Homo sapiens: one gene and its partners. The protein of the gene in region 2 purifies or fractionates together with the protein of the main gene of each other region. This does not show direct contact. Each region holds a gene or a part of one and is shown on either strand. Other genes may lie near its edges. The genes, in order: HDHD5, RAMP3, LYPLAL1 and SFXN2.

Evidence for each region.
Region 1: the proteins of RAMP3 (region 2) and HDHD5 purify together in Homo sapiens (co-immunoprecipitation; 2 studies listed by BioGRID and IntAct, with this or other methods). This does not show direct contact.
Region 3: the proteins of RAMP3 (region 2) and LYPLAL1 purify together in Homo sapiens (co-immunoprecipitation; 2 studies listed by BioGRID and IntAct, with this or other methods). This does not show direct contact.
Region 4: the proteins of RAMP3 (region 2) and SFXN2 purify together in Homo sapiens (co-immunoprecipitation; 2 studies listed by BioGRID and IntAct, with this or other methods). This does not show direct contact.

The regions. Positions count from the first base shown.
Region 1 is NC_000022.11:17,155,993-17,164,061, forward strand, and holds the start of HDHD5 (haloacid dehalogenase-like hydrolase domain-containing 5 isoform 2 precursor), read right to left. Parts: upstream 3,286-8,069; 5' UTR 3,260-3,285; coding exon 3,134-3,259; intron 3,001-3,133; exon of another isoform or gene 2,465-3,000; intron 1-2,464.
Region 2 is NC_000007.14:45,174,542-45,182,292, reverse strand, and holds part of RAMP3 (receptor activity-modifying protein 3 precursor), read right to left. Parts: intron 4,985-7,751; coding exon 4,852-4,984; intron 1-4,851. UniProt on the Homo sapiens protein: Accessory protein that interacts with and modulates the function of G-protein coupled receptors including calcitonin gene-related peptide type 1 receptor (CALCRL), calcitonin receptor (CALCR) and G-protein coupled estrogen receptor 1 (GPER1).
Region 3 is NC_000001.11:219,190,631-219,198,381, reverse strand, and holds part of LYPLAL1 (lysophospholipase-like protein 1), read right to left. Parts: intron 5,301-7,751; coding exon 5,131-5,300; intron 1-5,130.
Region 4 is NC_000010.11:102,731,529-102,738,635, reverse strand, and holds part of SFXN2 (sideroflexin-2), read right to left. Parts: intron 6,914-7,107; coding exon 6,853-6,913; exon of another isoform or gene 6,829-6,852; intron 6,485-6,828; coding exon 6,418-6,484; intron 5,778-6,417; coding exon 5,728-5,777; intron 5,083-5,727; coding exon 5,033-5,082; exon of another isoform or gene 5,028-5,032; intron 2,775-5,027; coding exon 2,727-2,774; intron 974-2,726; coding exon 874-973; 3' UTR 1-873. UniProt on the Homo sapiens protein: Mitochondrial amino-acid transporter that mediates transport of serine into mitochondria. Involved in mitochondrial iron homeostasis by regulating heme biosynthesis.

The DNA of each region.
Region 1 (8,069 bases), on a different chromosome or scaffold from region 2:
CATTACTAGAGAAGAATGTTTATGGTACATTATCTGTTTACAAGCAAACCTATGACAAAAAAAAAGAAACCAAGCAAACCACAATGGACATATTTCTGATAAGAGTGACACCTCAAGAGCCTCAGAGAGGTCCTTCAGAAGATATCCAGAAGAAAGCACTGTTATCGCAGATGACAGTTCCATGCATATGACTGCCCCCTAAAGACCTTCTAATGGGACATGGTGTGAAGGCAGAAGACAGTGATATCAATTACCTGACCCGACCTTATGTAGGCCTGGGCTAGTAGGTGTTTGTGTCTTCATTTTTAACAAAAGTTAAAAAAAAAAATTTTTTTTAAGGTAGGGCACTGTGGCTCACGCCTGTAATCCCAGCACTCTGGGAGGCCAAGGCGGGCGTATCATGAGGTCAGGAGTTCGAGACCAGTCTGGCCAACATGGTGAAACCCCATCTCTACCAAAGATACAAAAAATTAGCCGGGCGTGGTGGTGCACACCTGTAATTTTTTTTAATAGAAAAAAGCTGCCTGTAATCCCAGCATGTTGCAAGGCCAAGGAGGGCAGATCACGAGGTTAGGAGATCGAGACCATCTTGGCTAACACAGTGAAACCCCATCTCTACTAAAAATCCAAAAAATTAGCCAGGCGTGGTGGCAGGCACCTATACTCCCAGTTACTCCGGAGGCTGAGGCAGGAGAATGATGTGAACCCAGGAGGCAGAGCTTGCAGTGAGCCGAGACCACGCCACTCCACTCCAGCCTGGGCAACAGAGCGAGCGAGACTCCGTCTCAAAAAAAAAAAAAAAGCTGGCTGGGCACGGTGGCTCATGCTTCTAATCCCAATACTTTGGGAAACCAAGGCAGGCGGATCATGAGGTCAGGAGTTCGAGACCAGCCTGGCCAACACAGTGAAACCCCGTCTCTACTAAAAATACAAAAATTAGCTGGGCGTGGTGGCAGGCGCCTGTAATCCCACGTACTTGGGAGGCTGAGGCAGGCGAATCACTTGAACCTGGGAGGCAGAGGTTGCAGTGGACCGAGATGGCGCCACTGCACTCCAGCCCGGGCAACAGAGCTAGACACCGTCTCACACACATACACACACACACACACACACACACACACAAAAGAAAAAAGCTATGGAACAATGATATAAATGAAGATATATTTAGTACAGCTGTACAATGTGTTGTGTTTTAAACTAAGTGCTATTACAAAAGAGTAAAAAATTTTAAAAATTAAAAACTTGGTAAAGCAAGAAAGTTAAACTAAGGTTAATTTTCTTTTTTTTTTTTTTTGATAAGAGTCAGGATCTGTTGCCCGGGCTGGAGTGCAATGGCCCGATCTCCGCTCACCGCAACCTCCCTCCCAGGTTCAAGGGCTTCTCCTGCCTCAGCCTCCCGAGTAGCTGGGATTACAAGTAATAGATCCATTACATAGATGGGGAAACTGAGCTTGGAAAGCTATGTAAATTGCCTTAAGTGAAGCCGCTAACAGACTGCACAGGATTCAATTCTAAAGCTCGTGCTCAAACTCTGTCATCCTGCATTCTTCTTTTTCTGCTCTACCGGAAGAGTCACTTGGAGACATTTCGGGACTCTGCAGAGATGCTAGAGCCAATACAACAGTTATAAATAAGGGCGATATTTCCTTATATTTATATCCTGACAGTTTGTAAGTCCTTTTATCAACATATTCTAATTTCAAACTTCCACCTTGGTCACGTCTAGCTATGTGACACTGGCCAAGTCACTCAGCTGCTTTGAACCTTAGCTGCTCCATATTTAAAAATCATAAAAATAATACAGCTGTTAAGAGCTTAGACTCTGGCACCAGACTACCTGAGTTCCAGATTCTGCCACTTACCAGCTGTGTGCCCTTGGGTAAGCTGCTTAACCTCTCTGTGCCTCTGCTCCATCTATAAAATGGGAAGACTAATAATAGTACTTTCCTCGGAGTTGTTATAAAGATTATACGAATAACTGTGAAGTACTTAGAATAGTGCCTGGCACAAAGTAAGCACTATGTGTTTTTTTCATGCAAGTAATTTGGCCGGGTGCACTGGCTCATGCCTGTAATCTCACCACTCTGGGAGGCCAAGATGTGAGGATCATCTGAGGTCAAAAGTTCGAGACCAGCCTGGCCAACATGGTGAAACCCTGTCTCTACTAAAAATACAAAAATTAGCCGGATGTGGTGGCGGGTGCCTGTAATCCCAGCTACTCGGGAGGCTGAGACAGAAGAATCGCTTGAACCCGGGAGGCGGAGGTTGCAGTGAGCAGAGATTGCGCCACTGCACTCCAACCTGGTGACAGAGATGCCGTCTAAAAAAAAAAAATGCAAGGATTACTGTGAAATCCGTATGTTAATGTAAAATATTACTTGTGCGTTTAGAAGACAAAGTGATTCCTTTTTCCAGAAAAGGCAAAACGGCCCAAGGGAGCGTGAGAGCCGTGGATCTGACCAACCTGGTTTAGTGTCCTGTGCCGTCTCCCAGCTGCAGGACCTGAGAAAACGTACTTGAAAACTCGTCAAGCTTCGGCTTCCTGACCACACAAGGTCACACCTTCTCAGAAGTTGCGGGGAGGCTCACACATCACTACCGCGCCGGGCACACAGCAGGCGCCGGCTCCAGCCCTCCTGCTCCCGCCCGCGGAGCCTCCAGCGCTCAGTCGAGGTCACAGCGAGCTGAACTGAACCCAAGGCCCGCACCAAACCCACAGGCACTTGGGGGCGGAGCACCCGCAGGCGCGGCTCCCGGCGCGCGGCCCAGTTTCCTCCACATGCAGATGAAAATCACGACCCAAACGTCCTCATGGTGGAAATCAGAAGACGCGCAGGGAAAACAGGGACGCGGAAACTGCCGGGAAGCGCAGGGGCTGACAAGCAGCCTGGCCCAGGCCGTCCCACGAGCGCTCTCCCGCGGGAGTAGCGTTTCCGAGGCCGCCAGCGAGTCAGAGGAAGGCAGGGCGCATCCGCCCTCCAGCAAGAACGCGATGCACTCGGGCGCGACGACGGTCCAGGCAGTTCCCAGGAGGCTGGGATACCAGCCCGGCCGCCCCTCCTTCCCCGCGGCTCCCCGCCCCGCCTCCGGCCCTGAGTGGCGAGTGGCTCGGCCAGAACCCGGACGTCCTCACCTGAGCGGGGCCCACAGCATAGCACCTGCGGGCGGGGCGGCCCTGGAGCCCCGCAGCCGCGCGCGCCGCCCGCCAGCAAAGCCCACGCGCCGCGCCGAGCGCAGCCACACAGCCCCACGCAGCCATCCGGCCGTCGCCGTGCGCACGTGCACGGCGTGCGGCCCCCCCCCCCCGCGAGTCCGTCCGCTGCACAGCCAATCAGCGGTCGGCGCGCGCGGCATCACGGGAGTTGTAGTCCTGTAAGCGCGCGGAGCCCGTCGGGCGCCTATGGAACTCGACCCGCAGGCCAAAGGGGCTCCGTTGCAAGGAAGAAGTGCGGGGTCCCGCCGCCTCCTAGACCGAGATCGCGGTGAGCTGGCCGCGGCGCACAATGGGCACGGCCTGGGCGGCGGCGTCCGTACTATCGCCCTGTGCCTGCGGATCCCGGTAACATTGCGCGGCAGGCCCCAGGCCGGCCTCCCTCAGCTTCGCGGACTGTCTGGGCCGGGGGTCTCAACCTTGACTTCAGGGCCGGGCCGCTGGGGCAGACCCTTAGTGATGTTCAGGTCCTCTGGGCCCCTGCCAGTCAAGGGACGCTCGTCGCGCGCCAATTGTTAAGTCTTTCATTGTTTCTGTAAACCTGCTGACGCCCTCCCAGCGCATAGGGAGACTGCGCACGTGAGTCCGCCCCCGCGCGCACTGCGGAGAGGTAGAGGCACGAATGTAGTACAAGGTACAAAATGACTACTCCAGAGAGGGCCAGATGACTAAGTCAGCAAACACTTAGGGAACACGACTGTGTCCGCTGCGCGTTTCCCGGAGTAGACACAAGGGTGAATGAACAAAGAATGGATTTCGGTCACTGAAAGTGGAGAGGTAGCCGACTCCGTCCGTGGAGGCCCTTAGCAGAGCTGGATCTGGTAGTCCCCCGGTCATGAGGGGAGATTCTGCTGGAGGAAAGAGGTCTCCATTCCCACCGTTTGAAATGTGTAGGATGCCCTCAGATTCTTTGGCCCATTCATAGGTATAGCTATGCTAAAAACGCGGGACCCTACAATGTACTTAGCACTAGCAGAGAGGGAGTCGAGGATATGGACAGAGACTGCACTAGCTCACACATTAGCAGGCCAGGGTGCGGTGGCTCACCCCTGTAATCCCAGAACTTTGGAAGGTCAAGGTGGGAGGAAAACTTGAGTCCAGGAGTTCCAGACCAGCCTGGGCAACATAGGGAGACCCCTTCTCTATTTTAAAAATAATAAAATAGGGCCGGGTGCGGTGGCTCACACCTGTAATCCCAGCACTTTGGGAGACTGAGGCGAGTGGATCAGGAGGTCAGGGGTTCAAGACCACCTAGCCAAGATGGTGAAACCCCGTCTCTGCTGAAAACTGCAAAAATTAGCCAGGCGCGGTGGCAGGCGCCTCAAGTCCCAGCTACTCGGGAGGCTGAGGCAGGAGAATCGCTTGAACCCAGGCAGCAGAAGTTGCAGTGAGCCGAGATTGCGCCAATGCACTCCAGCCTGGGTGACGGAGTGAGACTCCGTCTTGAAAAAAAAAAAAATAATAATAATAATAATAAAATGAAGAAGTAGTTAGCGGTGTCCTTTGGTCCTCAGCTTTGAAGGGCAAGATCTTAATTCAGTTCAACTACAGCTAATCAGAATTTGGAAGACTAATTCAAGTCAGTCAAACTCACAATAGCCCGACACTTAAACCCTGCCAGGGGACATAGCTCTCTAGGATTGCAATGTTCCTAATCCCTTCCTTCTATTAAACTACCTAGAAACTGATTTAGTCATTAGAAATTTCTTGGTATGATGGCTTTTAAACATGCCCACAGTTTTTTTTGACAATCGGCTCCTCAAAAGCATAGCCAGGCGCGGTGGCTCACACCTGTAATCCCAGCACTTTGGGAGGCCAAGTCAGGCGGATCATCTGAGATCAGGAGTTCAAGACCAGCCTGGCCAACATGGCGAAACCCGTCTCTACTAAAAATACAAAAATTAGCTCGTCATGCACCTGTAATCCCAGCTACTTGGGAAGCTGAGGCAGGAGAATCGCTTGAACCTGGGAGGTGGAGGTTGCAGTGAGCTGAGAGCGTGCCACTGTACTCGAGCCTGGGCAACAGAGTGAGACTCTATCTCAAAAAAAAAAAAAAAAGAAAGAAGAAAAAAAGGCCGGTCACAGTGGCTCATGCCTGTAATCCCAGCACTTTGGGAGGCCGAGGTAGGTGGATCATCTGAGGTCAGGAGTTCGTGACCAGCCTGGCCAACATGGTGAAACTCTGTCTCTACTAAAAATACAAAAATTAGCCAGGCATGGTGGTGTGTGCCTGTAATCCCAGCTACTTGGGAGGCTGAGGCAGGAGAATCACTTGAACCTGGGAAGCAGAGGTTGCAGAGAGCTGAGCTGAGATTGAGCCACTGCACTCCAGCCTGAGCGACAGAGCGGAACTATGTCTCCAAAAAAAAAAAAAGCTGGAGTTGGGTGGGTATGGTGGTTCATGCCTGTAATCCCAACACTTGGGAAGCCGAGGCAGGTGGATCACTTGAGTCCAGGAATGCCAGACCAGCCTGGGCAACGTGACAAAACCTTGTCTCCACAAAATATATATATAAAAAAAAAATTAGCCAGGCATAGTGACACACACCTGTAGTCCCAGCTATTCTAGGAGGCTAAGGTGGGAGGATCGCTTGAGCTCAGGAGGCAGAGGTTGCAGTGAGCCAAGATTGTGCCACTACAGCCTGAGCAACAGAGTGAGACTCTGTCTCAAAAAAAAAAAAAGAAAAAAAAAAAACCTGGAGTCTAATTCTAATTCCCCTCCCATTGAGTGTGGGCTGGACTTCACTGACTTTTTAATAAATAACATGGGACAGAAGTGAGTGTAGTTGATTTCCAAGGCTAGGTCATAAAAGATACTGTGACTTCCACCTTGCCCTCATTTAGATAACTCATTCTAGGAAAGCTAGACGCATAGTAGAGTTGTCATGTGGTGAGGCCATTCAAGCAGCCCTATAGAAAGGCCCACATGGTGAGGATCTGAGGCATCCTACCAGTAGTCAGGAGAGAGAATCTTCTTGGAGGTGGAGCTTCCATTCCTGGCGGAACCCTTGACCAAAACCTCATGAACCACCCTGAGGCAAAACCACCCAGCTAAGTCACTCCTGAATTCCTAACCCTCAGAAACAGGGAGATACTGAAGGTTTGTTGTTTTAAGTCATTACACTTTGGGATAATTCGTTATACAGCAAAAGATAACTAATATTCTTGGTGATCAGGACTGTGTCATACTTAGTGTTATTAATCTTCAGGAGTTTCAGCCTAAGTCAGCAGTGTTCCCCACATGGGCCTGCCTTGCTTTCATTCTTCCTCCATTGTGGACTGAATGCCATAAGACCATTCCAGCCCATCCAAAGCAGGAACCAGAAATGGGCTGGGTTTTGCTGTTGTTTTAGTTGGTTTGGTTTGTTTGTCTGTTTGTTTCGGGGAAAGATGACAGAAGGTGCACTGTGGGAGATTCCAACATGATTATTGAATCAAAGACTGTGTGTGTACGTGATAAGTCTTTATTAGATTCTCTGGGTTCATAAGCCAGTAAAAGGTAAGAACCATCCTCTAAGGAGAAATCTCACAGCTAAGGCTTGCCATGTTAAAGAGTTTGCACTTCCAGGAACAAGGGCACTCACGTCTACCCTGTGCTATTCTAGGTGTCTTCCCATCCTGCCGGATGCACGGAGCACATATTCTGCCACCCCTAGCTCTATCCTTTGGGCAGTGCTGAATAAACACTAACAAACTCAGGCTCTGTGGCTGACATTGTAAGCAGAACCCCTGCCCTGCTGTTGCTTAACGCATCTTTATTTTGATTCCCAGTCATGTTACGACACAATCACATTAAGATGTTCTTTCGTATTCAGGTTCAGAATATTTGCTCTGCTCACTTGATTGAATTTGGAGACTTCCCAAATCTTTATATGAGCACGTCTTCTGAGTTTATCCAGATTATGTTTTGTACCGTCTGTTGTACAAATGGACCGTGGATGTTAATTAGAAGGGCCTCGCCAGTCTTCAATCACATGTTACTCGTGGGGTTTGTTAAATCAGCTTTTGTCTCAGAGAGGGCTTCGGTGCTTGGATTACACTATATTTGGAATTTGTAGCCTTCTATGCGCTGACTTGCCCCACCTTGCTACCTGGCTTCAGAGGTCCAGGATTCTCTAACTTGAGCATCCATCAGAATCACCTGGAGGTCTCCTAAAAACCCAGATTGATGGCGCTCCCTTTGGAGTTTGGATGTGCATATCTGATCAGCTCCCCAGGATGCTCATGCTGCTGACCCACTTTAGGAAGCTCTCCTTTAGGAGTTAGCATGTCTCTGAGCAGACGCTGGACCAGTATGTTCTGGAGACCATACACTTCCCATCCCAGAACAGATGCTGCTCCCTGTTCTCTATCCCCAGCCCCCAGCCACACCTATATGACCACAGTTCTGTTCAACTGGTGCCCCAGCACTGATATCTGTGGGCCCTGCTCATCTCAAGTGAGCCACATTTTTCTCCCAGGCCTGCCTTGCTTTCGGTCATCCTCAGTTGTGGCCCAAACCCCATAAAACAGCAGCCATTCCTGGCAGGAATCCGAGGTGAGCCAGTTCTTTTCAGGAAAGGTAGCAGAACAGAAGATACACTGTGGGAAGTTCCGGCCTCACACGTGTACAAGCTCGATGCCCTGGACTCTAAGCTGCTTGAGGGCAGTGTCTCTCTGATTCACCTGTCTCCCTCACAGTCCTGTCATGCAGGATGCCTTGCACATGATGGGTGCTCAGTTTACATTAATAGGCAGGTGAGGCCAGGCACGGTGGCCTGTAATCCCAGCACTTTGGGAGGTGGAGGCGGGCAGATCACCTGAGGTCAGGAGTTCGAGACCAGCCTGGCCAACAAGGTGAAACCACGTCTCTACTAAA
Region 2 (7,751 bases):
GACTCCTGCCCAGATGCCACCCCCTCTGTGCAGGGCTAGCACTTCCCCACGTCTGTGCTGCATGAGTACAGATGCAGGAGTGTGAAGGGTCCTGCCTCGGCTTCCCCATGGGAAAGTAGCCCATCTCCTCCTTCCCGCGCTGTCCCAGGAGGGAGCCACTGATCTGGCCCATCAACAGGAAAGAGCTGCCTCCTGCATGGAACATCATCTGGGCGTAGATTTCCCAAAGCATCAGAAAGGGGTAGGAAACAGGGACTCTGACCTACTCCACCCAGGGTTCTCCTGGTCTCCCAACCCCATGCCCCAGGAAGGGTCTGGGAAGCCCAGGTACAGTCACTCAGCCCAGCTCCTGACTGATCCAAGGCTGGCTCTCAGCACCTTGGAATGTAGGTCAGACACACACCTGTGCCTTTCCAGGTAGTGTCAGCAGAGAACAGCCAGAGCAAAAGAAACAGCCTCGAATCCAAGTACAAAGCTGTTGGCTCTCCTGGGCCTCAGCCACAATGCAGCACCTGAGACATGCCCAGGCATTAGAGACACCTCAACAGCTAGGTCCATGGACAAACCCTCATCTTCCCTGACCTGCTTCTCCCACAGGGCCTCAGATTCAGTAGCCTGCTGTCCACCCCAACCCCCCGCCAGCTGATCCAGGAGCTGGGGAGCCGTCTAACAACACCCTGCAACAGCCTTCACCTTCAGAAGTTCCCAGCATCTATGTGTGTGATGAGAATCACATGCGGTAACCTCTGTGCCTCCAAAGTCATTCCACTGAACTGCTACCCAGGAATGCCACCCCCCAACAACCATCCCCAGGGCTGAGATGAGCCAGACAGACCCTGGAGAAGACCCTCTGTGGACAGCGAGTCTACAGGGCAAGAGGAGTGATGTCTAGCCCCAGAACCGTCCCAAGAGGAGGTGAGGCAGGGCTGAAAGCCCCTGCTGTTCCCAAACCCCACTCCCAGCCAAAGCTAGGCCACATGGAGAAGCCCACGGAGCAGAGGTAATCCCAGAAGACAGCATGGACAGTGGCTTCAGGCTCAGGTTGCAGAGCCAACATGGCAGGGCCTCTCCAACTCCAGCTCAGCCACTCACCATCTTTGTGGTATGGGCCATGTCATTTATCCTCCCTGGACCTCAGTTTCCTCATCTGTAAGTGGGTTTAATAACACTTATCCTATCAGGTGGTTGAGAGAACCAAATGAGTTGAGGTCCATGTGCCCCAGCAAGTGCCTGGCACAGAGGAGGTCATGGGGTGAGCCCACCCCAGCTGTTAGGTTTGGGGCAGAGCTGAGCACAGCACCCATCTCTGTGGATCCACAAAATCTGCATTTTTGTCACATATCTAGAGAGGTCCACATTCAGTGCTTCTCTAGAAAACCGGGAACTACTTATGATTTATTCATCCCCTGGATAATCTGGGGCCTCTCCACTCCTCCTTCAGTCAGGCTCCCCAGAGCACTCTCCCTAAAAAAGATGCACCACAACCCAGGATGGGAAGGAGAGGAGCCCAGCAGGCTGGAAGCCGGGCAAACCCCCCAGTCAGACTCCCTCTCCCCCCACCCACCTCTGGGGTGTTTGCCCACCTTCCTTTATGTTTCACCACCTGAGTGTGTTCCCAGGCAATATAGTGTTGCATTTGGAAATCCCATAGCAATGCTCCTTAACTGGGTACAGAAGGAGCCCATTGCTGCTATTGGAGGGAGGTTCCCAGGAGAGGACACGCTCTGGTTGCCCCGAGGGGCAATGAGACTCCTCCCCAGGGAAGGCCACAGGCAGGCCATGGGCGAGTTTGGGGAATAGGGTCTTCCCAGCCATGACTCGACTCCTGATGGGGTCGTCATGTGGACCAGTCCTATTGAGGGGAGCAAGCCACCTCTCCTCTAAGCTCACCAAGGCCCACCCTGCTTCAGTGGGGACCAAAGCAGAATGAACATTCAGGGGAAAGAAAGGAGTGTCCTTCATTCTTGACTGAGCTGGGCTGCAGGGCATGGGCAGGCAGTCACCATGTCAGGTAAGCATCAAGTGCCCTCCACCTGGGCCAGGCTGCCTCCACCCAGGGTGTACTGCCACGCTGGGGCACCGCCCTCCCTGGGGCTTCCCTCTCCTGCCTTGGCTCCGCTCCCCAAATCTCATAGCTTCTTTTGTCGTGGTTTGCTCCACACCTTGGCGCACAGCCGCCAGAGCTTGAGAAAGGTATGTGGGAATCAGATGCTGGAGGTGCCACACGTCTGACAGTATTTTCGTTTCTCCCTAATTAGTGGACAAATTGGCGGGAAATAGCACACTAGCTGAGAAATCACAGTCCGAAATTCTCAGGTCCTTGCATCCCACAGTCCTCGGTTTCCAGGGCTGCGGTGGGGGAGCCTGAAGGCCTCTGATCCCCTCATCTCCAACCTAGAGCTCATTTTTTTCCTCCTTCTGGATAGGTGTAGAAGTTTTCCTTTGTTTCCACAGCTCTGATATTCCAGGGTCCATGTGGGACATTTTCCTCCCTCGTGCTAGTACCGGGCAAGCCCTCACCGGCTGCAAGCTCATGCCCTCAGCCCCTGGCAAGGGCCCTTTATCCTTCCATTCTCCTGTTCTCTTTCTAGAATTCCTACTATCTTGGTGTTACGCCTGGACTGACCACTGACCTCCTGATCATCTTCTCTGTCTCTCTCTCCTATTCCTGGGAGATTTCCTCAACATCTCCCTTCCAACCTTTCTATTCCATTTCACTTCTATTGCATCTTCCATTTCTAAACCTCTTTCTTTGTTCTCATTCATCACATGAGAGATAGTTGTTGCCCTCTGAAGATATCAGTCGTGACGTTTGCAGTTTTCTTCTTGGTGCATGGCCCCCGGGTTTGCTTGGTTCCATCTCTCTGGTCTCTGTCCTTCAGGGTCAGAGCCTTAGGTCAGATTTCCAGGGACCCTGCTTGGAAGTGACTCGTGACTGGGAGTGGGGACTGAGAGCTGATGAGACACTGGGACCCTGCAGAAGAGCTTGTCCCCAGAGCTTCCAGGGGTTGGGGGGGTCACTGCTTCTAGGTCCTTCCTCTTGGCTGGTCTCACTCCTCAGAAAGGACAGCTCCAATCCTACCCTAGACCACCCTCCTGGACCCAGTGGCAAAAGATAATGCGTATCAGCCGCTCTCTCCAGCCTCCCTCTCTGGGACACTGTGCCACGTTCTCAATTACATGGGAAGGCCCAGAAACCCTGGTGTCACCAGCTCCAAGAATACACCTCCAGTGTCCAGCTGGGGTGGAGGAGGGCTCTGGACACCTCACTGCTTCTCAGCTACTCTTGCCACTCTCTTGGGAGCTGGTGCTGCCGGCCGGGTCGTGGGAGGGCTCCGCAATGTCAACCTGGCTGTTCCCAGCTCCCCTTTTCCAGCATCAGGTCTGACTTCACCAAGGGCACTCAGTCAGTGGCTCTTGCCCACTCACTCACTGGCTCCTAAATGCCCATCGGGTTGCCTCCACTCCTGTCCTCCCAATCCACGGCTGGACATCTCTATTTAGTCTCTTTACCAAGGCTTTAGCGGGTTACAGAGAGGAGCAAGACCAGAAGCTACGAAGCTATGACCTCCTCTTCCCTGACTCCACCCCCACCAGTGGGTCCATTCCAGGCCTGTGTCCAGGCTCACTGAGGACCAGGAGGAGCCTGCAAAACCCCTTCCTGAATCCCAGCACCCCTTCCCAGCAGACTCAGAATTCCATTCCACTTGGTTCAGCAAGCAGTTCCCCCACAGAGTGGGGCTGCAGATGTGACAGCCTCAAGAAGCCCCCATCTGCTGGGCCACTAGAATGGCCAGGGCCGGGGAGGCTTCCTGGGGCAGGGCCATGGTCAGTGTCTCTACGGAAGACAGGGGCTGGGGTGCTAACATGCAAAAGCATGAGGCCAGCACATTTAGGGTCTGGCAGCAGCCACCAGGGGGTGGCACAAGACTGCAAAGCCAGAGGTGGAGTGGGGTGGGGCAGAGGACTGTGAGGCCATGAGCAATTTCCAAGGAGGTAAGGAGATGAAAAGCTTGGGAAGCTTCTAGAACAAGGGGACCTCCCTTCACTATGAGGTGTTGTCCACAATTACACCTGATATAAACCATTGGAACCCAATTCCTCTAAGTCCTCTGACCACTGAGGACAGACCCAGCCATGACTGGTGCTGTAAGAAAGACACATGACAATGTCCACCCAGCTCCAGCTGTAAGGAGAGGTGGAGCACCCTCCAGGCAAGGCATCCCCCAGGCCAGGGCACCCCCTGGGGTAGGGCAGCACCCACCCCTGGGAGAGTGCACCCCCCAGGCCAGGCCACCCGCAAACTGGACACTCCCCGGGCAGGGCACCCTCCAGGCAGAGCACCTCCCAGACAGGGCACCCCCAGGCCAGGGAACCCCCGAACTGGACACTCCCAGGGCAGGGCACTAATCTGGATCAGGAGGAAAAGCAGGCATGGGGAGGATTCCTAAATAACAGAGGAGAGGGAGAAGCAGAGGCACAGTGTAGAATTGCTAGAACATCAGAGTGAGGATGCGGAATGGGGGGTAGGAAGCTGGGAACCCGCTGTGGGTGTGGGGAGCACAAATGCCGTGGGCAGGGGCACGGCATGGGCGGGGCCGTGAGTGATGTGCCAGGGGGATGTGGGTGGGGTGGCCAGAGCCAAGAGCAGAGTGTGAATAGGAGCGTGGTTGGGGCCCTGGGCAAAGTGTGGGGCAGCACATGAAAGGGCTGTGGGTGGCCTACGGTGGGTTGTGGGTGAGGCATGGGTGAGGCCTTGGGTAGAGTGCGGTCAGGCTGTGGTCAGGCAGTGGTTGGGCAGTGGGCAGCGCTGTGGTCAGAGCAAATCCCACGCCCAGCAGTGGCACTCACACGATGAACTCGGACAGGTTGCACCACTTCCAGACGTCCACCTTGCCCATCATGTCTGCGAAAGCCTTCCCACACAGGGGCAGCCTCTCCAACATGCCTGTCTCGTTGCAGCCGCCTGCTCTGGGACACCCACCTGGAGAGGGGACAGCCATAAGAATTCCACTACAGTTCACACTGGGGATGCCAGGACAGGGGAGGCCCAAGGGGCCATAACTTGAGTACTCACTAGCAAGGCTCCGTTTGCAAGCCTGAGACCGTTCCAGCGGAGTCCTTCACCCTCCACCCTGACCTACCTGTCAGTGCAGAAAGGAGGCTCCACACAGGGACCTGTCCCCAAGACAGGACAAGTCCACCTTTTCACTTCACCGCCTCACAGGCAGTGGCACAGGCAGGGATCAGGCAGTGAGACCCTGGGCCAAACTCCTTGGGAGGTGGTGAGAGGGTCTCAGGCAGATCAGGGCTGGCAAAGAGGCTCCAGTTCCAGCTTAGGAGTCCCAGGGGCCTGGGAACATCCTGAGGACTCTAAGACCTGGGGACCATCCCACTGCCTGCAGGGGCGGCAGAGGAGGGCTCCAGGCCAGTAAAGACCAACCCCTCCCGGTCAAAGACCCCCTCCAATTCTGGGAAACCAGGGGCTGAGGCCACTGCAGGGACTCATGTTCCCAGCAATGGGAATGAGTCCTTTGGACTTTCTCAGGGTCTGACACAAGCTGCTTGTCCCAGGATTTCCCCACTGCCCTTCCCAACCTCTGCCCACCAAAACATCCCCTCCCCTTCCTCCTCATGCCTTTGCTCCACACATTTCCCCATGGGGAACATCCTCCCTCCCACTGAGCAATGCCCCCTGTCCTTCAGGGCCTGTCTCCACGGTCATCCCATTTCCAGACGACAGGACCTCCCTGCTCCTAAACTTCCCTCACCTGACCTCTGCTTTGGTGCTCATCATATACTCAAGAGAGACCCCAGGCATATGTGTCTCGGGTGTGTGTGTGTGTGTGCACGCACAGCCCTGCTGTCTGTGTCTTGGTGTGTGTGTGTGTGTGTGTGTGTGTGTAGGTACACAGCCCTGCCATCTATATCTTAGTGCATATGTGTATGCATACATGAGCATGTGTGTACACAGCCCTGTCATCTGTGTTCCGGCGGCTGGTGCTGGGCTAGAGGAAATACCATGAAGAAGCAGATAAGAAAATGGTTCCAGATTGACATGGGACAGACCTGGCTCACACCCACACTTCACTGGTTACCAGCTCAACCTCAGTTTCCCCATCCGCAAGATGAGGGATACAGGCCCCACCTCACAAGGAGGTTGAGCTGGCTAACTTAGTCTGAAATGCTCAGTGCCACCTCCAGGAACGTATCATTCATTCATTCCCTCAATAAGTCTTGGCTGAATGATAGAGAAAGCAGTGAGCATTTCAGAGTCTGATCTTCTTCCATGTGTGGCTCACCCTGGGCACTGAGCAAGTGCTGAATAAGTCACTTTAATATGGAAATGGCAGGTTTAGACAGGACCACTTTCTGGTGCAGGGACCTGCTCCACCAGAACACAGCGCCCCAGACACTCCTCAAGAGTCATAGCCTGCTTAATGCTAACATTAGGGAAGACCCTGGAAGCCCCTTGGTTGAACAAGCGTCTGATGCCAGCAAAAGGGAGTGGCTTGTCTAAGGCCAAAGGAAGGCTGGAGGGGTCCAGATCCCAGGGTTAAGGGAACTGTCATGCTCAGCCCACCCCCACCTGCAGCAGAACACCTGGAGCACATACAGAGGACAGGTGTTAGCTGGAACCCCACAGAGGAGAACACAAAAGGGCTTGCCAGCTGTTCAGGGTCGTGGGTTCCCAGACTCAAGGCACCTTCTTCCCTTCGTGACTGCCCAAACCTATACCTCAGAATCCAGGCTGACAGCACTGAGAAGGGCCCCTGGGGGTCACAGCTGGTAAAGTTGGACAGAGGACTTGCAGGTCCCAGCAGGTGGTCTGAGAAGCCTGTGTAGGCACTCACATCTCCCCTTCTGTCCATGCAAGCTTCCCCAGGACCCAGGGCATCTTGAGGCCCCAGAGAACCCTGGAGATGGGAAGCACACAGGCTGTGGCTCAGTGGTCAGCCTGCTGCCATGTGTAAGCAGATGGCAAGGACACAGGCTGGGTGAAGTCACCACCATGGCCCCTGGACACAGGGTCAGTGACTGGCTCTCCCAGAACAGGTGTTTCAGGGCCTTCTGGCCACTCTGCATGGTTTCCAGCACCTGGAATGTCCCTGACCCCCACGTTCGCTTGTCTCATCAGCACAGCTGCAGGCCTGGATTCTCTGAAAGGCCACACATCCCACTTAGGGCCCCAACCCCTGAGTGAGCCTCTGGGGTGCTCACCTCTCTTCACAGAAAGGCCATGTGCTCATTCTGTGTCTGTCCCATCCCTGCATGTAGCACAGGTCCCCCACATGGTCCCACAGGGTCTGCACATGGAGATGGTGGCTCAGTACCCACTGTCAACCCAGTGAAATTTATCCAAAGATTTAGCAAAACATCCTGGACCACCGCTATCATGTGTTGCGGACTGTGTTGGATCCTTGGACAAGGGGAGAGGGAGAGGGTCTGGTTCCTGTCTTCAGGACCTGCCATCTGGGTTCCAGGGGGCAAGAGGAAGACACAGGGATCTCAGTCCAACTAGGGGAGTGACTGAAGATAGAGCATATAATAGATGGGGCAGAACCCAGGACAGAGTGTCAGGAAGTCTCACCAAGATGCACAGGCCATATAGGGGCTGCGCATACAGGCAGCCACAGTCAGAAGGAGACCTGAGCTCCGATGTCAGTGGCGGGAAGGGGACATGACCAGGGCTGCATCAGGACCACTGAAAGGGATGGTGCAGTGGCTATAGGGGGATAAAAAATGCACAG
Region 3 (7,751 bases), on a different chromosome or scaffold from region 2:
ATGAAAACTGGATTATATATAGCATATATAATATGTACATATATGCATATATTATAAGCTATTCTACTTAAAATGTTTAATAATAGTTTTTTTTCTTTTTTGGTGCCTATAATTGACTGGTCATTTCTGCTAGCTTTTCTACAATGAATGCTGAAATACTTCTGTATATGCTGTCAATCAGAAAACTACCCTGGAGCATTAGAAAAATTCAACAAGAGACTTGATTTAATCAATCACATTGTCGGACTTTGAAAATATATCAAAGGCACTGATTTTTAAAAATCATCTTTTTCTCAAGAAGAAAATGGAAAAACAAATTATCTTCATTCAGTGAGCCCCAAGTTTGGGGTTTGAGGGGGCTTACAGACATTGAAAAATCAAGTCTTGTGTTATATTTTTCTCCCAGGTGACTTTTTTTGAGGTTTATGGGCAATCTGGCTGGTAAGACATGATTCCCTCTAAGAAAATATAGGTGCTCAAACAGGTAACCTCTCCTGCTACTGTTTTTATATGTGTGTTTAACTTCATTTAAGATTTGTTTCTGCTTTGAGAAGCATCTGTTCATGTACTTTGCCCACCTTTTAATGGGGTTTTCTTTTTCTTGTAAATTTGTTTAAGTTCCTTGTAGATTCTGGATATTAGACCTTGGTCAGATGGATAGATCGCAAAAATTTTCTCCCATTCTGTAGGCTGTCTGTTCACTCTGATGACAGCTTCTTTTGCTGTGCAGAAGTGCTTTAGTTTATTAGATACCATCTGTCAACTTCTGCTTTTGTTGCTATTGCTTTTGAAATTTTCATCATAAAATCTTTGCCCATGTCTATGTTGTGAATGGTATTGCCTAGATTTACTTCTAGGGTTTTTATAATTTTTGGTTTTACATTTCAGTCTTTAATCCATCTTGAGTTAGTTTTTGTATAAGGTGTAAGTAAGGGGTCCAGTTTCAATTTTCTGCATATGGCTAGCCAGTTTACTCAGCACCATTTATTAAATAGGGAATCCTTTCCCCACTGTTTGTTTTTGTCAGATTTGTTGAAGATCAGATGGTTGTAGATGTGAGGTCTTATTTCTGAGATCTCTATTCTGTTCCATTGGTCTATGTGTCTGTTTTTGTACCAGTGCCATGCTGTTTGGTTACTGTAGCCTTGTAGTATAGTTTGAAGTTGGGTAGCATGATGCCTCCACCTTTGTCCTTTTTGCTTAGGACTATCTTGGCTATATGGGCTCTTTTTTGGTTCCAATTTTAAAGTAGTTTTTTCTAATTCTGTGAAGAATGTCAATGGTAGTTTAATGGGCATAGCATTGAATCTATAAATTACTTCGGGTAGTATGGCCATTTTCATGATATTGATTCTTCCTATCCATGAGCATAGAATGTTTCTCCATTTGTTTATGTCCTCTCTTATTTCCTTGAGCAGTGGTTTGTAGTTCTCCTTGAGGAAGTCCTTTGTATTCCTAAGTATTTTATTCTCTTTGTAGCAATTGTGCATGGGAGTTCATTCATGATTTAGCTCTCTGCTTGCCTACTGTTGGTGTATAGGAATGCTTGTGATTTCTACATATTGATTTTGTATCCTGAGACTTTCCTTAAGTTGCTTATCCACTTAAGAAGCTTTGGGGCTGAAACGATAGAGTTTTCTAGATATTGGATCATGTCATTTGCAAATAGACACAGTTTGACTTCTTCTCTTCCTATTTGAACACACTTTTTATTTCTTTTTCTTGCCTGATTGCCCCAGCCAGAACTCCCAATACTATGTTGAATAGAAGTGGTGAGAGAGAGCATCTTTGTCTTGAGCTGGATTTCAAGGGGAATGGTTACAGCTTTTGTCCATTCAGTATGATACTGGCTGTGGGTTTGTCATAAATGACTCTTCAGACATTTCTCAAAAGAATACACTTATGCAGCCAAAAAACATGAAAAAAAGCTCAACATCACTTATCATTAGAGAGCTGCAAATCAAAATCACAATGAGATGCCATTTCATACCAGTCTGAGTGGCAATTATTAAAAATTCAAGAATTTTTGAATTTTGAATTTTTAATATGCTGGCAAGGCTGTGGAGAAACAGGAACACTTTTACACTGTTGATGAAAATGTTAATTAGTTCAAGGATTGTGGAAGACAGTGTGGCAATTCCTCAAAGACCTAGAACCGGAAATACCATCTGACCCAGCAATTTCATTACTGGGTATACACCCAAAGGAATATAAATCATTCTATTATAAAGATACATGCACACATATGTCCACTGCAGCAGTATTCACAATAGCAGACATGAATCAATCCAAACGCCCATCAATGACAGACTGGGTAAAGAAAATGTGGTACATGTACACCATAGAATACTATGCAGCCATAAAAAGGAACAAGATCATGTCTTTTGCAGGGACAAGGATGGAGCTGGAAGCCATTATCCTCAGCAAACTAACACAGGAACAGAAAACCAAACACTGCATGTTGGAAGCTGAACCATGAGAACACATGGACACAGAGAGGCAAATAACACACACTGGGGCCTGTCAGGGAGGCGGTGAGAGGGAGAGCATCAGGATAAACAGCTAATGAATACAGGTCTTAATACCTAGGTGATAGGTTAATAGGTATAGCAAAACACCATGACACATGTTTACCTATGTAACAAACCTGCATGTCCTGCACATGTATCCTGGAACTTAAAATAAAATTAAAATTTTTAAAAGATTTGATTTTGTTGTACTAGGATTCTTTAAAATGTAATATACTGCAGAAAATCCATAATATCTCTAGTACTCAAAGATGAACTAGATAAAGTAATGGATCTGGGAAAGGAAGAGAGAGGATGGGGCAAGAGACAAATGGACAGCAGTTACCATTCAGTGTGATAAACTCTTCAATACACACTCATTAAGAGTACTACTCAGAGTATTTTCTCCTTTTATCTATTTTTTTGCTTATGAAGAATGTACTTTTATTTTTTAAAGCAATTTCTCATCCTGATCTTTTCTTTTCCTATTGCCACCACACCACTTCAGACTTTCATTATATTATACTGGTTTCTCCATGTCAGACTTCTCATCCTTTTACTTACCCCTTCTGCCAAATTAGTTTTTCAAAGTACAATTCTTATGACTTGAAGACATTATTTAATGATCCTTTACCAATTATTACATGTTATTATACCTACAAAATAAAGGATTAAAAACTGAACAGAGTATTTACTGAGAGTCTGGAAGAAACCAAATAGTTTGTTCATCTCTCAGTAAACAGATATTATATTATTATTTCCACTTTACAGATTAGGTAGCAAAAATTAAGTGTAGGTAATAAGTGGTGAGCCAACTAGGAAGTGGTGGACTGTAGATTTGAACTCATTTTTGTCACCATTATGCCATCACGTTCTAGTCTCTTACTGTGGCTATCTGAGTCAACAGGTACTTTTTAGTTAGACACAAACTTTGTTACAGCCAACTACTGTCCAGACAGACAAAAACAAAAAGCATTACTCTGTCCACTTCTACTTTACTGTACAAATCATTCCCTCTACCTAGACTTCTACACTGTAATAGTTAAAATTTTAATAATTTGTGCATCTTAAATGCCACTGCCATCTTTCTATTAAATCTTTCTCTTACAGCCCCAAATGCATGTGACTACTTCTTCCTCTCAATTCCTACAGTACTGACAATTTATTGATTGGGTAATGTTATTTGTTATAGATTTCCTGAGTATTTGCTCTGTGCCAGGCATTGTGATAGGTTCTGGGAAATAAAAAGAAATATATACTATCATTGGCTTTGAAAAGCTATTAGTTATACCACATTAGAGCACTCATCACAGCCTGGCTGGCATTATAGTTACCACTTTAAGAATCTCATTGGCCCTTTCAGGTTGTAAGAAATATGTAAGGCAGATAGATCTTGCTTTACTTATCTGCACATCCCCGTGAACATCTATAATAATGCGTAGCACATAGTGGGGACTTAAAAAATACTTGCTAAAGATTGAATGATGACTGAATGATACATGATTCACATGTTTGGAATTCTATCTTCTAACTACTTCATAATCCCCTAGACTAAGTTGGGAATCCCTTCCCTACACTCTTCCTAGTCCTCCCATAATGCTCCATGTTTATCTCTATTAGAGTTAAACATCAACGTTAAACATGGAAACACAGAAATATAGAGTTAAACATAATGAGGAAACTAAGGACCAGAAAGGTGATGTTGTTATGCTAGAGGCCACGCTGCTTTCAACAAAGTGGAAACTAACGCCAAGACAGAATAGAATGGATTTTATCCATTATATCATGTTGTCTCTCATGACTCAACAGACAGTTCAGCACTTCAATAAACACAAAGAAAGTTTATTAGTTTACCCAAATCCCATCTATAAAGAATTTCAATGTGCATTTTAATGTTATTTAGAACATAATGGGGATACTTAATTTGCTTTTTAATTTCATCATTAAATACAACTCATTGTAAGTTAAATAGTTACATTTGGAAATAAAACCCTTTCACCAAAATATGTCGTGTACCATTCATATTCTACATGCCCCATCTCACTTTTGCATGTATTAGAAAAAGATTTTAATAATTTATGTATATGCTAAGTCCAGAAACAGAAAAAGGTATTAAGCAGAATAAAGAGCTTATATAAAGCTACTTATATTCCCTTAGGAACAGGGCTTGCTAAAGACAGTCTAACAAAAATTTACAAATATTCTTGTGAGATTAACTCTGAAGATTATAATTTTCATAAATGTAGTGGTATATTTTGACTGTATATCTTAATGGCAATAGATGTTTAAACTTATATTCATAAGAGTTAAGGTAACTGAAGTAAAATGTTTTAAAAATTGAAATGAATAATTTCTTAACTGAAAATTAAACTAGAAGAAAAATTTTAACTGCCACAAGAGTCTCAAAATCCGTTATTATTCAAAAAGAAAATCAATTAAAGTTTCATGCGCTGCTGTTTATAATTCTAATATCTTTGAAATCCTCAATATGTAAAGTTTATCTGAAACTATGAATGCATCGAATGATATACAAGTGCTTCTAAATAATGTTCCAAGTAAGATTTGATGTATAGAATTAGACAAAAGTGAACAGTGATAAATTACCAACATTTAAAGGTCTTACCTATTAATATCCTGTTCTTCTTGATGCCACTTTTTACTTCTTCATCAATCAAATCAGTAAGCACTTGACACATGACATCAATTGATTCAAGGTGTTCTGGGCAGTCATTGGTTATTTTAAATCTGTCAAACCATACATTGGAGATTCCTCCTTTCATAGGAGTATATGATCTGTTTAACAACCGCCCCCCCCCAAAAAAAAAGAAAGGAAAAGGGAATATGAAAATGGATGCTTTAATTACCAAAATAATAGTGTTTTGAATAAATGATTTCAATTTCTTCTAAGTTTTATAAGTTAAATGCATATTAAAACTACTCTCATGTATATTGTATTAACTATCCCATACTTGTATCTAATCCATTAAAATCTACTAATGCCAGTTCATATCCTCTTTACCTACTCCCTCCATCTTTTAAGAGGGAGAACAGTTACAGTACCAGTGAATCTTAATCCATTCATTGTATATTCATGCTCTGGGATACTATGTTGGTTAAAAAAAATACACACACATACGTGCACAGGCACACACACCATCAAGATATTCCAAACTGTAATGGAGTAAAGGGGGTCCTGTATTCAAGTATTATGTTGGTAGATGTAAATGAAAGGGGAACAAAAAAAAACCTTAGAGATTTCTGTGGGCAAACACAGAGAGGGATGGGGGCTATATTAGATAAACACAGAGAACAAATGTTTTCCAAATATGAAAAACGGAAGAGTTGCACAGAAGATAATCCTTATCCCTTGGCATGCCCTGCTTTCTCCTCACGTAATGATGAGAAACAGAGTGGCAAAGAAAACATAGCCAGTGACAAAAGTGCCTATAGTAATTTGAAAGAACTCTAAACCAATGACAAGTAATATTTCCCTTTGATGAACCCAGACACAGGATTCTTTCCACACCAATACCTCCTCTACTTTGCCATCTCAAATTTAGCTGTATACTGTCACCCACCAAAGTTAGTAAAGTAAAAGCATGAAATGTGCAGCTAAATTGAAAAACAAAAATAGACGGCTAAAAGACAACAGGTGAGACCTGAACATGCTTTTGTACTTCTTCTCTAGTGAAAAACCCAAGTAGAACCTCAGCATATTCAAGGAGCTAGAAATATTCAATTGTCATTGGCCTTGGGATGCATACAATCTTTAGGACCAGTGGGTGGTGCTGGAAGGGAACAAAATTACACCATTTTTCAATATTGATCATACCACCCCAAAATAAATGGACATCCACTTAAGGGGCTTGAACGTCAAGGTTATATTTGGAAAGTTTCTCAGAGAAACTAAAAAAAAAACCTGGAAACAAGAAAGTTGAACTGACTAAAATTTAACAAAAATTCATATACGGGGATCTTTTATTTACTCAAATAGAATCATATAAACATTACTTTGTAACACATTTTCTAAAATTTAAATGGATATGATGAATACCTCTGAAAGTCAGTACATAAAAACTTAAATGTTTTCCCTAAGTTTATGCAGATACATAAAATTTTTTAAATATGAGATTATATATATATACATTGTTTAGATGTTTTTCATGTCAATCTTATTCATTTTTTACCCATCTCTACATTCCTCCTCTTCTCTCCAACTCCCTCACACATCTTGTCCTTTACATTCGGTAAACTGTGTAAATGATCTGAAATATATCCTTCAATGTTATTCTTATAAATTAAAATATGCATATTTACAGGCTATTTCTTGGCACACTATTTCTTTTCAAAAATAAAGTAGTCTATCTGATTCTATTATGTGCATCATGCTTTTTTCCTTCAACAATATCTCATGGAAATCCTTTCATCAGTTACAGTTCTAACTTACCCTTTTAATGGCTATATTATATCCTATGATAAGCATATTCTGCAATTTAATCAGCCATTCCCCTAATAATGGGAATTAATTTGGTACCCAGCTTTTAGCCACTAAGAAATATGCTTCATTAAACATATGCATACGTGTTTTTATCTACTGGAACTTTTATTCCTATGGAAAAGAGTCAAGAAACAGGTTGGATTAAAAGGTACAATTTTTGTCTTAATAGATGTCTCAAAGTTGCTTCCATAAAAGTTGTAAAAATTTACCTTTCTACAGGAAAGGTAGGAAAATATCCTTTTGCCCACAGCAGTAATAGCAGTAGGTGCTGACATACATTAAAATGTTACCATTTAAGAGTATCAATTGAAGTTTTAAAACCAACTTTATTGAGGTATAATTTACATATATAAACTATATTGAACTACACACATTTTAGGTGTATAGTTCAATTACTTTTTACAATGCAACCACCATCTCCACAATGATACAGAACATTCCTTTTCCTTGGAAAATTCCATCATGCCCCTTCACGAGCAACTCCCGTAACCTTCCCAAGCAACTACTGAGTGAGACTATCAACATTGATTTCTTTTGCCTGTTCTAAAACTCCACATAAGTGGAATTGCTGACTGATGTCATTTGCTATTATTTTTTCCTATTGTCATTTCAATTTTTTTCTTGTTTAAAAGAGTACTTTGTCTATTATTGACAAATATTTGTTGCATATATTTCAGGTATTTTCTTCCAAGTCTATTTTGAATATTGATATTACGTTATTATGTACTTAAGGGTTTTTTTTTTTT
Region 4 (7,107 bases), on a different chromosome or scaffold from region 2:
TAATTTCAAGGTTAGCAGCACTCCCAAAGAAGCTGTCCGGGCTGGGTGTGGTGGCTCATGCCTGTAATCCCAGCAATTTCAGAGGCTGAGGCGGGCGGATCACCTGAGGTCAGGAGTTCGAGACCAGTCTGGCCAGCATGGTGAAACCCCGTCTCCACTAAAATACAAAAATTAGCCAGGCGTGGTGGCAGGTGCCCTGTAATCCCAGCTACTTGAGAGGCTGAGGCAGGAGAATCGCTTGAATCCAGGAGGCAGAGTTTGCAGTGAGCCGAGATCGCGCCACTGCATTCCAGCCTGGGCGACAGAGCAAGACTCCATCTTGAAAAAAAAAAAAAAGAAGCTGCCTGACCAGGGGGCAACGAGGAGGAGGATGTGGAAGGGTGATGAGCCCCAAGGGGACAGAGTCCTTTCCCCCTTCTTTTTCCTGAGTTCAGCTAGAATTACATGGGTAAAAGTTTCCATTGCTTGGGAGAGGAGGAAGCGAAGAAGAAAGAGGTATAGAAGCTTCCTTTTGATCCAAGGTCTTTTCCTCAACCCTGGCTGGAACCAGAATCCTAAAGGTTTCCTAACTTTTCCAAATGATTTGCTTGGATGTCTCCTCCCTGAGAGGGCCTCAGCTTCTGGTCTCCAGGGGACAGGGGTTGAGGAAGCAGCTAGAAGACATTGGCCTTTGCTACCCTTTTTCACTTTTTTCCCCTGAGGTCCAATCAACCAGTACCAGGGTGTAAGTATGAGGCATTCATTGTCCCACCCCCCAATCTACCCTGGCCTTCAGGCCTTGTTGGCAAAGGGGAAGGAGGACACAAGTGTGCACGTAGCTAAGGAGGAGCTGGTGAATATGGGAATAGACTGGTCCTTGCTGAAGTGGGGCATTTAGAGACCCTTATTGAAGTAGACATAAGGCTCAAGTTCTCCATACTTGGCCTTGATAGTGTCTTGGAGCTTCGGTTCCAGATAGGAAACTGGCAATTCACTGAAAAGAGAGAAGTGGATTATGAGCATGCCACCAGGAACAAGCAGTAAGTTACCCTCAGATGAATATCACCTCCAAGAAGCCCTCCTGATTTTTCCATCTAGGATTATTATTGGCCTCTGTATACCACAATGTTGCTTTACCATTACGCAGGCCTGACTTCATTCTCCTTGGGCTATGGTTCTTCGTTTCAACTTCCATCTTCTCCACAAGATTACAAACACAGTGCTTGGGACACAAGAGATGTCTAGCAGATGACCATGGAAGTAGTATTGAACTAGAGTACTGAGGAAGGGGAGACTGGAATTGTCTGGGTATATATTCAAGCTACACTTGTCTCCTGGGGTCAGTCACCCTCCACCCCCTAGTCTGATGTATCCCTTCCCTTTTCCATCATCCCTTCTCCCTGCTTCCTCCTTCTTGGACACACAAAGGAAATAGAGGGGTTTCGGTTGTCAGCCCTCTGCCTGTCCCTTTATTTATTTATTTATTTATTTACTTATTTATTGAGATGGAGTTTCACTCTTGTTGCCCAGGCTGGAGTGCAGTGGTGCAATCTCGGCTCACCGCAACCTCCACTTCCCAGGTTCAAGCAATTCTCCTGCTTCAGCTTCCCAAGTAGCTGGGATTACAGGCATGCACCACCACACCCAGATAATTTTGTATTTTTAGTAGAGACGGGGTTTCTCCATGTTGGTCAGGCTGGTCTTGAACTCTCGACCTCAGGTGATCTGCCCACCTCGGCCTCCCAAAGTGCTGGGGTTACAGGCGTGAGCCACCACGACCAGCCCCCTTATTTAATGTTAACGACCAACGGGGAACGGTGGCTCACGCCTGTAATCCCAATACTTTGGGAGGCTGAGGCGGGCAGATCACCTGAGGTCAGGATTTCAAGACCAACCATGGCCAACATGGTGAAACCCCATCTCTACTAAAAATACAAAATGAGGCCAGGCGCGGTGGCTCACGCCTGTAGTGCCAGCACTTTGGGAGGCTGAGGCGGGCGGATCACAAGGTGAGGAGATTGAGACCATCCTGGCCAACATGGTGAAACCCCGTCTCTACTAAAAATACAAAAATTAGCTGTGCGTGGTGGCACGTGCCTATAATCCCAGCTACTCGTGAGGCTGAGGCAGGAGAATCGTTCAGGGAGTCGGAGGTTGCAGTGAGCCGAGACTGCACCTCTGCACCCCAGCCTGGCGACGGAGTGAAACTCCATCTCAAAAAAAAAAAAAAAAATGAGCTGGGCATGGTGGCAGGCACCTGTAATCCCAGCTACTCTGGAGGCTGAGGCAGGAGAATCACTTGAACTGGGAGGCGGAGGCTGTGGTGAGCCGAGATCGTGCCACTGCACTCCAGCCTAGACAACAAGAGTGAAACTCCATCTCAAAAAAAAGAAAAAAAAAAAAGTTAAAAACCAGATCCAGCCAGAGGAGAGCTTCCTAATAACCCAGCTGGCAGGAAGAGAAAGTCTGTTGTTGCTCCCCCACCTTCTCTTCAAGGCAGTGCTTGCTCCACTGGGAGGGAGCAACCTTATTCCTGTCCCTGGCTTCTCCTGCCCCTCGCAGATCTGTTTTCGTTTGTCAGAATTCACCAGGGTTAAGAGGCCCAGCCTTTAGGCTGATGGACACTTGTCCTCAGACAGGTGCTGCCCTTCCTGCCCCTTCCCTGTCTCCTTCTGGACAGCAGGCAGATCAGGGAGCGCGCTGGCAGCATGGTCAATTAAACCAAGTAAGGAATGAACAGCAGATACCATTTCTGTGGGAAAAGCCCACACGCCACTGGCACCATGAAGATGAGGCTGCAAGAAAGGAGAAACCAAAGCATCAGGGGACATCTCCCCACAGGCCCGTCCATCCCCCATCCCCAAGGGAAAGGAGCAATGCCCAGGCACCTGGCCTGCCTTCCCAGCTGGCACCATATCCTCTCCCTCCAACCCTCCTCCTGTTCCCGCAGTGCGAGGATACTCATTCTGGCAGGGGGATAAAACCAGTACCCTCCTGACCCCCATCACTCATTCCCACCCTTACTGCATTGTTCAAGCAGAGGAAGAAGACAATGAAGTAAACAGGGACTGTGAGCAGCAGGCCTAAGGAGCACAGGCACTGCTGGCATCGAGCGAAAGGAGCGACGAGGAGGGAGAGGAGAAACTTGGAGGGGGAGGAGCAACATGGAGGGGGAAGAGCGACATGGAGGGGAGGAGCATCATGGAGGGAGAGGAGGGACATGGAGGGGGAGGAGCGACATGGAGGGACAGGAGCAACTTGGAGGAACAGCATGGAGGGTGGGGAGCGACTTGGAGAGGGAAGAATGACTTGGAGGTTGAGGAGCAACTTGGATGGGGAGGAGCGACTTGAAGGGGGAGGAGTGACTTGGAGGGAAGGAACTACTTGGAGTAGGAAGAACTACTTGGACAGGGAGGAGCAACATGGAGAGGGAGAAGGACATGGAGGGGAGGAGCAACATGGAGAGGGAGGAAGGACACAGAGGGGAGGAGGGATGAGGAGGGAGAGGAGCAACTTGGAGGGGGAGGATTGACTTGTATCGGGAGGAGTGACCAGGATGGGGAGGGGCACTTTGGAGTGGGGGAGGGGCACTATGGAGGGGGAGGAGTGAGTCTGTGGATTCTGAGACCTGCTTCTTTATTGGTTGAACACCTGGGCTGTCAGAGCACAGTGAAAGGCAGTTTCTCCAGCTTCACTGTGCATATAACTTCAGGAGCTTATTAAAATGCCAGGTGCCAACTGAGGGGGTCTGGGGAAGGACTTCAGAGTCTTTACTTCTAACAAGTTATCAGAGGATGCCAACGATGCTGGCATGGACCAGGGTTTGGGAGGCAAGGTCTTACAGGACGCGGGACTCTGACAGACCTGGGTTGGTATCCCAGTTTTACCACTTACTAGCTGTGCCATCTTGGACAAGTTACCTCAGAGACACAGAGGGAGGACAACCTACTTTTTAGGGCTACTGCAGACCACTTTGCAGTGCCTACTTTGCAGGGTTACTGTGAGGATTCAATGAGATATGTATGTAAAGCACCCAGCCCATGGTAACTACTCAATTAGCAGAAGTTGGTATAGCATAATGTTAGACTGTTGATCAAATCTCAGCTCCAGCAGTTACCAGCTATATACCCTTGGGCAAGTTTCTTACTCTGTCTAAGTCTCAGTTTCTTCATTTGTAAAAGGAGATGATAATAATATGTAGATTTCTAAGGCTGGGAGAATTAAGTGAAATTATAGATATGAAACACTGGGTTCAGTGGGGACACAGAGAAAATATACAGTCAGTGTTAGCTGTTAGTGATGCTGTCATTAGTCTCGTGGCCCTGAAATGCATGGTGAACGCTAGGACATCTCCAGTTAATGGCAGATACCTAAGAACCCTGACGTGACTGGTGGCATTTCCCTCCTGTGTGAGTCTGGGACACATGACAGTCCCAGCCAAAGCTATGTCTCCTCGTTCTTATCTCTTCTGTAAAACTGCTCCAGACAGCCAGGCGCAGTGGCTCATGCCTATAATCCCAGCAATTTGGGAGGCCGAGGCAGGTGGATCACTTGAGGTCAGGAGTTCGAGACCAGCCTGGCCAACATGATGAAATACAAAAATTAGCAAGGCATCATGGTGCGTGCCTGTAATCCCAGCTACTCAGGAGGCTGAGGCAGGAGCATTGCTTGAACCTGGGAGGTGGAGGTTGCAGCGAGCTGAGGCTGCGCCATTGCACTCCAGACTGGGCGACAGAGCGAGACTCCATCTCAAAAAAAAAAAAGCAAAAAACAAAAAAATTGCTCCAGACTTAAGGTCAAAGGAGAGACCCTGGGATGGGAGGGCACCTCAGCACTGGACTTCCTACATGGACACGTGCATAAAGTCTAGCCAGCCTGATGCCCTCACAAAAGATGGGGTGAGAGCTTTCCAGATGGACCACAGGTATTCTGAGCTTGACCACTTTTAAAGTCAGGTAAAGGAGTACACGTTCTCCAACACGGGCTAGACAAGACGACACATCTTGAGTGCTCCAGCCACGCAGAACCCAAATCATCAAAATATGATACTTACAAGCACCCGCTCAGCATGACCTGCAATGGGGCGTGCAGGACCTTGACTTTCTGTATAAAAACAAATAAAAGACAGATCCACATGGTACTTCTATGCCTTAAGGTGAACCCCAACCCTGCTCTGCCATGGATCAGCCAGCTAGAAAAGCCCACAGGTGGCTGGGCGCAGTGGCTCATGCCTGTAATCCCAGCACTTTGGGAGACCGAGATGGGCAGATCACAAGGTCAGGAGATCGAGACCATCCTGGCTAACACAGTGAAAACCCGTCTCTACTAAAAATACAAAAAAAATAGCTGGGCGTGGTGGCAGGCACCTGTAGTCCCAGCTGCTCGGGAGGCTGAGGCAGGAGAATGGCATGAACCCAGGAAGCGGAGCTTGCAGTGAGCCAAGATCGCGCCACTGCACTCCAGCCTGGGCGACAGAGCGAGACTCCATCTCAAAAGAAAAAAGAAAAACCCACAGGCAAGGACCCCCTGGCCCTTAAAGAAGGCCTTGTTCTCTGCAGACCAGGTAAGGAAACTGGCCATGGTATATCTAAACAGGAGGTCAGTGGAGATTGGTGTGGGCTTGAGTGAGATGACAGCATGGTAGCTAAAGGGAAGGATGGGTGGGGGAGGGCAGGTCAGGTATCCCTAGGGACAGATGTGGCTGGACGCACTCTGGGCAGGGAAAATGCCAAAGCAAACCCTACATACCTGCATGAAGTGCAATTTCTCAAGCCTTTCCATGATGACTGGCAGCAAGACTGGAAGAGACCAGGGAGAAGCTGAGGGGAGGGCTGGGAGGCTCTCCCCAGGACTCCTTCTGAAGTCAGACCAGGAACCAAGTGGTTCCCTCTCCTTCAGCAGAAGCTCCAGAAAATACTTACCACTAGGCAGAACAGAAGAGCAAGTAGGCATGACCACCCCCAAACTTTCTCCCCAAAGTCCTGGCAGAACAGTGCTTCCCAAGCTTCTCAACCTGCACACTTGCAATATCAGGAAAACATGTGCTGCTAGGTCCAAAGCTACCTTCTCAAAACTCAAAAATGTATTTGTACGTTCGTGCAAACAAATTTTGCAATACACCCACTGCTGGAAGCAAACCAAAGCAGGGAATTTATTTTCTCTATCACTCTCCCTAGCACCCCACACTGTGTCTAACATTAAACACAAGGGCTTGACAAGTATTAATAAAATGAAAATAACTTTCTACCCCAAACCTTGGATGAACTGATGTTCTAGGAACTAGTGTGGTTCTTCTAGGCTTACAGCAATCAAGCAAAGCAGTTTGAGAAGCATGGCTGTAGAAGGTGGGCCCCACCTCCCACCCAAAAGCTGAGTGTGGCTGAGACCTCCACCCTGTGTCACAGGCTTCCCCAGGATGGAAGGGCTTCCCCATCTTACTCATCCCAGGAGCTGACATGGTGATCCGAGAAATAACTACTTGGGTGATGCCTATGGCCGCAGCTCTCTGAGGGCAGAAAATAGTAAGTTGTCAGAAATGATGTATCCAGTGTACATGTGCTGCACCAGGGGGCTGGGTCAGCATCATGGCCAAGTCTGAGATGGTAAAGGGGAAGGGAAGGACCCTCCAGTTGCTGAGTGACCTCACTTTATCCCCTCCCACCTAGCCAGGTTTTTATGGACCAGAAATGATGGAGAAAAGAGAGAAGGGGCCTGTTCTGAACAGAGAAACATGGGGAAAATTTGATAGGGAGTGAGGATGGAGCCAGAAAAGGCTTCTCAATCCTATATTGGTGCCTACTCTGACCACTAAGGAGGGGACAGGGTATGAGAGGGAATTCCCTCCTCCCACCCCAAAGGGAGGCCTCTGCTCACCCGGGAATGACCAATCTCATTTTCATTCCTGTCCTTCACGCAGATTCCCTTTATGAGCTCCCTAAACACAGACAGGAGTTAATGGACTTGGGAAAGGGGTGATGGAAGCCTGCCAGCCACATGACATGCCAGGGGACCAAGGCCAGGCCACTTAAGCTCCAGGAAGCCACCTCCTGTAGCCTGGGCCTTTGACCTTCCTTCTGCACTCCAATAAGCAGTATCTTAGGAGTGATCTAGGGCAGTGGCTGAGAGCGG